2 linked regions of the Homo sapiens genome follow. The protein of the gene in region 1 purifies or fractionates together with the protein of each later gene. This does not show direct contact. Each region holds a gene or a part of one and is shown in the gene's direction. Other genes may lie near its edges.

Region 1 (3,752 bases):
ACCAAGTGGGAAGAGCCCCTTATAAAACCATCAGCTCTCACGAGAACTCACTCACTATCATGAGAACAGCATGAATGAAACTGTCCCTATGATCCAATCTCCTCCCACCAGCTCTCTCCCTAAACGCATGGGGATTATGGGGATTACAATTAGAGATGAGATTTATGCGGGGACACAAAGCAAAACCATATCAACCCCCAACCTCTTTTGCCCCTCCAACACTGCTCTTGGCATTCCAGTTCCTGCCTGGTCCATAGCCTACTCCTTCTTCATCTGTGGAAGGGAGGGTAGTGGGAGTCATTAGCCTGGGCAGGGAGGAGTGTTTTATCACTACACTGTTTAGAATGGTGCCAATACAAAGCACATCAACTTTCAGCAAGTTTATTATTGGGTTTAAATTCTCTACACACGATGCACTGCTTTTGCCTACACCTGGACAGTGTTCCCACTCACTCTCCTTAGTATGATGCTGGAGATAATATGATCTGCCATGAAGGTTAAATAAAGCAATGTTCACTGAGAACTTAGCCCAGGCCCCTGCACATGCTGAGCATTTTGTTAATGTAACAATGATTAGTAATAGCATTGCTATTGGTTCCCCATCTCTGGCAAAGCCTTTCATGCTTGGCCTCCCTCACTCTCTTTCACCTTCCTAAACCCTACACTCCAGCTATGCCAAACTGTTTACTCTGCCTTGGACACACCAAGTTCCTCAAGCCTTTGCAAATACTCCTTACGCTCCTAGAACAATGGATGTCAATTCATCATTTAGGATCCAGCTTACAGTCATGCTTTCCATGAAGCCTTCCTCAAATTAGCCACACAAAAGGAGTGACTCCTCCCTGTATTCCCATGACCCTCTGCTCATGCCTCCTCTTTAAAGCCTGCCTTCACTGGAGTTCCTGGAAGGGAGAGTCTGTTCAGCACTCATCTCTGTATCCACAGTCACCAAAATTGTAACTGCCCCATAATAAATTCCCAATACTTGCAGGGATTTTGCTTCTTGGCTTGTTTTGTTTTGCTGGAATGAATGAATAAGTAAATGGGAACGATTTTGACTTCACCCTAAGCCTAGCTAAAAGTTTGGGTAGTGACAGTTTTGGTTATTTTGTGTAACCTGATAGTGGATCCCCTTTCTATGCCAAAAAAAAAAAAAATCCCCCAATACTAGAGTACCTGTTTTCCTAGGGAATTGACCTCAGCAACTGAAGGAGAGGCGATTCAAAGCAGGGAGTGTGATGAATAGGTCAACTCTGTCCTCGCAGCCGTCCCTGAGAGGGCGCTGTTCCCAAATCGAAGCCCCAGAGGCGGAGACTGAGACACCGGCACTCTCCCACTGGACTGGGTCAGCATCCCTCTCCCCGCGCGGCCGCAGGTCTAGAGCTGAGCGCCTGCCCACAAACATGGCGGCGCCCTGCGCGGCTTCCCGTCGCCGCAACCGTGGGGCCGGCCCTGCCTTGCCAGTACTAGGGGACTTCCTCTGCGCGCCGGCTTCCTGCCCAGCTGGCATTTAAACCACCGCCTGGGGCTGCAGGATGCTGCTGCGGATGCAGAGCTGTCCGCGGGCTGGGCAGCGTCGCCGTCTCCCCTGAGCCGCCTCGGTCCGGCAGGAGCGGAGCCGAAGCATCCCTTGCTGCACGCAGGGCAGAGCAGGCGAGGGCTGGGGGCCGATCGGGGACCCCGGCTTGGGACCCCGGCATCTGGCAGTTTCCTTGCAGGTTCAACTTTAATTGCCAAGATTTCACCCCTCCTCCTCAAGCCCAGATTATTTATCCTCCCTCCGGCCTGGGCTGCTGGATGCAGCAGCGGCTGGGCTTGGTCCCAGGAGCAGGGAGAGTGCGCTCCCGGCCCTCCTAGCCGCGTGCCCGGGCCATGGTGCGGCTGAGCCCCGCGCTTGGGTGAGGCGGCGGCGCGGCTCGGAGCCCGGCGGACCGGTCCTACGGGACATCTTCCCCTGAGGAGGAGTCTTCCCCTGGGGCTGCGTGCCGGGGGCGAGCGGCGGCCGCGATGTTCAGCTGGCTGGGTACGGACGACCGCCGGAGGAAGGACCCCGAGGTTTTCCAGACGGTGAGTGAGGGGCTCAAGAAACTCTACAAGAGCAAGCTGCTGCCCTTGGAAGAGCATTACCGCTTCCACGAGTTCCACTCGCCCGCCCTGGAGGATGCCGACTTCGACAACAAGCCCATGGTTCTGCTGGTGGGCCAGTACTCCACTGGGAAGACCACCTTCATCAGGTGAGCCGGCCCAGGGTCCTGGCAGCCCACCCCGGAGCCCAGCGCCTAGTCCCTCCGGTCACTCCTGGTGCTCCATCCCAGACAGGGGACCAATGGGAAGCCTTCAGTTGAGGGCTCTGAAGAGATCTGTGTTTGTGCAGGCGTCAAAATCTTACCCCACAATTTTTGCTGGTCCCCCTTCCCATCCTACCCAATACCTGTCCACTCTACTTGGCCCTTGGCTGTGGTGGTCAACCTGAAGTATTCAAGTGTAAAGCCATTCCCAGTCTCCCCATCTTATGGATGATGAAACCGAGGCCCAGGAGGCACAATGGAAGAGCTCCTGGTCTCTGGAGCGCCTTATGTTGGTGGGGATGTCTTACGTCTTCACTTTTTAGCAACACATCATTCACGGGCAAAACCTCTTCCCTTGTTTTTCAAGGGGCTTGGCACTCACATGGGGGCCTCACAGTTGCAGCTGAGTTCTGATGGGTGCGGGCCTGGGAACGGAGGTGGCCTGGGGATGCTACTTGTCCTCCTTTTATCATTTCCTTCTCTAAAGCAGAGCTCCTGTGTATATATCTTGGAGACTCAACAGAAGCTGAGTCCAGAAGCAGAATGCTTTTTTTTTCCCCTTTCTCTTATTTGATCTTAATGGCTTAATAATAATATTAAAGACGCTTAGAGATGGAAGGGATATTGGCATTGTCTCATCCAGTTGCTGAGTTTGCAGGTGAGATAACCGAGGCGCAGAGAAGTTAAATGAATTGTGCAGAGCCATCTAAAGAGTGGGCAGCAGACCTGGGATGTTAAGTCCTAGATGCATGTGAGGAGATGCTTGGCTAAACGCCTGTAACTCTGAGAATGAGTCATCCATTCCCTTCAATTACAGAATCCTTGGGCTGGAGGGAGGCTCAAGAAGTCAATTTGTTCACCCTGCATTCAGAGAAGTCCACCAGAGGCCCTTCTTATCTTTAGAGAACAGGCTTCACTCCAGTCCTCAATCTTCCCAACTTCAAGGCCAGCCATTTTCTTGGCCCCTTTTATAGCCATTCCAAATTGTTGAGAATGCTGTGGCCCTCTGTCTTAAGACTCAGGCTCCCACAGCTTGAGAATGGAGTTTGGTGGCCCCCCAAAGTCAAGTGTGCTCATCTCCTGCAGAGGGTTTGGAAAGCAGGGGTACCCTTATTCCTATTCCTTGGCTGTTTGAGCATCCACAGCATGTGAAATGCTGTGCTTTGTTTGGTGAGGAGTGCAGAAAAGTTAACAGTCTAGTTACTAATTTTCTAGGTACTAATTTTCTCTAACATCCACCTTGTAACGCCAGCCTTCTGGAAGTAGCACCATGCTAATAGGTCATGTCTAAACACAACACCACATTGAGTTTGTCCTTGTGGAGTGCACAGCCTAGGGCTCAGCAGCTTTAAGAGGCCAAGTGATTTCTGAAGGAGTTTGGGAGGTGATGGGCCTGTTGGCTCTTGTATGTTTTATATTGATAGAACTGCAAGAGGCCTTAGAGATTAAACTAATCCATTGCTT
Region 2 (3,652 bases), on another chromosome or scaffold:
GTTGGCTAGGCTGGTCTCAAACTCCTAACCTCAGGTGATCCACCCGCCTTGGCCTCTCAAAGTGCGGGCATTACAGGCATGAGCCACCGCACCTGGCCAGAATTTTATTTTTTTATTTTTATTTTTCGAAACACAGTCTCATTCTGTCACCCAGGCTGGACTGCAGTGGCACAATCTCTGCTCACTGCAACCTCCACCTCCTCGGTTCAAGCGATTCTCCTGTCTCAGCCTCCCAAGTAGCTGGGACTATAGGCGTGCACCACCACACCCAGCTTATTTTTTATATTTTTAGTGGAGACAGAGTTTCACCATGTTGGCCAGGCTGGTCTTGAACTCCTGACCTCAGGTGATCTGCCTGCCTCGGCCTCCCAAAGTGCTGGGATTACAGGCATGAGCCACCTTACAGTAACAGAATTTTAAAAAATAGGTGCACACCAATTGGGAATGGCTTACGTAAGTTATAGTACATGGAGGCAGTGTGTAGCCCTACAGCCAGACTGGCTGGGGTTTTTTTGTTTGTTGTTTTTGAGACGGAGTTTCGCTCTTGTCACCCAGGCTGGAGTGCAATGGTGCAGTCTCTCACTGCAAACTCCGCCTCCCGGGTTCAAGTGATTCTCCTGCCTCAGCCTCCCAAGTAGCTGGGATTACAGGCAGGCTGCCACCATGCCTGGCTAATTTTTTGTATTTTTAGTAGAGGCGGGGTTTCACCATGTTGGCCAGGCTGGTCTCGAACTCCTGACCTCAGGCAGTCTGCCCACCTTGGCTTCCCAAAGTGCTGGGATTACAGGCTTGAGCCACCGCGCCTGCCCAGACTGGCCGATTTATAGCTTGGCTGCAGCTTACTTGCTCTTGACCTTGGACAAGTTATTTAACCTTGCTTTGCCTCAGTTTGCTCCTCTGAAGTGAGAATAATAGAGTTGTTGTGAACGCTAAGTGAGTTTATTATCACATAGTGCCTACAGAACAAATAAGAACAACGAAGTGATTAAGTATGAATTGAAGAAGATACAAACTATAGGAAGTTGAAACGCAGATTTGGGTGGGTGGCTGATTCTATTAAATGTGTGATTGTATTTGTTCATTCTTGAATTGCTATAAGGAAATACCTGAGACTTGGTAACTTAGGAGAAAAGAGGTTTAATTGGCTCACAGTTCTGCAGGCTGTCCAGGAAGCATGGTGGCATCAGCTCCTGGGGAGGCCTCAGGAAACTTACAATTACAGCGGAAGGCGGAGGAGGAGCCAGCACTTCACGTGGCTGGAACAGGAGGTAGGGGTGGGAGTGGGGAGGTGCCACACACTTTAAACAACCAGATCTCATGAGAAGTCACTGACTATACAGTACCAAGCGGGGATGGTGCAAAACCATTATGAGAACTCCACCCCTGTGATTCAGTCACCTCCCACCAGGCCCCTCCTCCAACATTGGGGATTACAATTAGACATGCGATTTGGGCAGGGACACTGATCCAAACCATATCAGTGATTTAGGGGGAGTATCTTTTCTATATTAGAAACTTTATAAAGCAAATTGTCCATTCTAACTTGACTCAGTTTTGGATAGAAATTATAATCTCACCAGGTGCACATTTTCAGTATACTGACATTCTTCGTAACAGATTTATTTAATAGATCTTTGAAAGAAACAAGACTTTGCCTAGAAGTTAATGTTTTTTCACACTTTATCTACATGCACACTCTGTAGCAGAAATACCCTTTGCCCAACTGAGTTGGAGTAATGTGTTCAGCACATTTAATAAGTGTGGGGTGCCCAATTAGTCCTTTCAAAAGGTGTCACACAATTTTAAGTTTGAAAAATACCTGTCTAGTTTAAGGATCTAGCTTTTAAAGCCCCAGGACTAACGATCCCAGTATTCTTTAAATGCTGATAAAGAGTTCACAACTTTGCTTTGTGTTTTAGGATTAACAGTGTTCGGATTTTAGAGGGTTTTTTGTTTGTTTGTTTGTTTGTTTGTTTGAGATAGAGTCTTGCTTTGTTGCCTAGACTGGAGTGCATTGATGCAATCTTGGCTCACTGCAGCCTTCGCCTCCCGAATAGCGTGCACCACCACTCCTGGCAAATTTTTGTGTTTTTAGTAGAGACAGGGTTTCTCCATGTTGGCCAGGCTGATCTCGAATTCCTGACCTCAAGTGATTCAACCGCCTCAGCCTCCCAAAGTGCTGAGATTACAGGAGTGAGCCACCACACCTGGCCTAGATTTTACAGGTTTTTTTTAGTACTAACATTGGAAGAACACATGTCAGGGACATAAAATCAAATATCCTGTGTCCAGCAAGAGATTACATATTTTCAGTAAAAACTTTTTTTTTTTAACTTTGCTTCCTAGACTAGGTCATGACAGCTACAAAAATCTCTAGCATTAGCACCACTTTTTCACAGGCAGTGTTTCTATCATTGCATGGGGAGAAGAGTTAAAAATAGTAGGAAAGGAGATGGATTTCTAAGCTTAACCCTAAATTTAGGGAATGGAAAAGCCATTTTCTTTACATTAACAGTGTTATGCCCATTGCACATTTTCTTTTGAAAAATTATGACAACAGGACAAAATATAATTTAACAGAGCTAGGACTTGGGGGAGCTGCTTGTCCTTAATGTCATTCTGAACATTTTTAGATGCCTTAAATTCATCTCCTTAATTTTTGTAGTTTAAATAAAGGAGCACATACCATCTGTTGACTAATGTAACAAATTGTTATTTACGTAACCTCTACTATATGTCTAGCCCTAATACTAAGAAATCAGAAGATAAATAAGGCAATATCCCTTCCTTTTGAGATTTGACTATTAAATATATCTCTGTTTAGACTCTTTCTAGGGCAGACTTTTATCTCCCCTTTTACATTAATACTTTATTTGTTGTACCCCAGAACTTAAAAATTAAAAAAAACTTTATTTGTAAAATTGTTGAAACCTGTTTATTCACTGAGAAGACTTTACTATAAAATTATTCTTAATCTATATGAATTCAGTTCTATTGTGTTACCTTCAAATTGTATGGATTTCAAATGGTGGTAAAAGTTGTAGACATATTTGTCACTATATACTTGACTACAGCACAACTTCATTCTTTTAAATTGAACAAAAAAAACCGTTTTACTTAGGTTGTAGCTTCTAAGGTTCTTTACTCTGAAATCCACTTGAAATGTGTACTTCAGTTTATGATTCACAATTAGGGAAAATCTGTTTTTTCTTTTTCTCATTTTCTTTTCATTCTTTTGTTTCTGTCCTCTGTTGTGGCCTTTCCTTTACCTTCTGAATTCCTTTCTTTCCTTTCCTATAGGCACTGATGTTCTTTACATTGGCCCTCTGAAAGGTGAGCCTTGCCACAATTTAAAGACAAAAAGTGTTGGTCTGTCTGCTTCAGCTATATCCTTATTTTCTAATTCTCTTGAACTGATTTTTTTTCCCCAGAATTTCTGCCAACTTAATTATATTCTTAAGGCTTTATTACGTGTTTTAATGTTATACAAGGAGAATTAATTACACATGTTTTCATAACAGGTAAAATAATATACTAAGCTTTCCTTTCAGAATAAAACTTTTGTTTCACAATGTGCTTTATATCATAATATGTGTTATTATTGAAAAATAAGATGCTGTACTGCATACTTACTACCTGTTTTTCATGTTAC

What was found. The genes of interacting proteins can lie anywhere in the genome.
Region 2: the proteins of EHD3 (region 1) and FERMT2 purify together in Homo sapiens (affinity purification with mass spectrometry; one large-scale study listed by BioGRID and IntAct). This does not show direct contact.

What each region holds. Positions count from the first base shown.
Region 1 is NC_000002.12:31,232,615-31,236,366, forward strand, and holds the start of EHD3 (EH domain-containing protein 3), read left to right. Parts: upstream 1-1,537; 5' UTR 1,538-2,007; coding exon 2,008-2,234; intron 2,235-3,752. UniProt on the Homo sapiens protein: ATP- and membrane-binding protein that controls membrane reorganization/tubulation upon ATP hydrolysis. In vitro causes tubulation of endocytic membranes. Binding to phosphatidic acid induces its membrane tubulation activity.
Region 2 is NC_000014.9:52,881,477-52,885,128, reverse strand, and holds part of FERMT2 (fermitin family homolog 2), read left to right. Parts: intron 1-3,300; coding exon of another isoform or gene 3,301-3,333; intron 3,334-3,652. UniProt on the Homo sapiens protein: Scaffolding protein that enhances integrin activation mediated by TLN1 and/or TLN2, but activates integrins only weakly by itself. Binds to membranes enriched in phosphoinositides.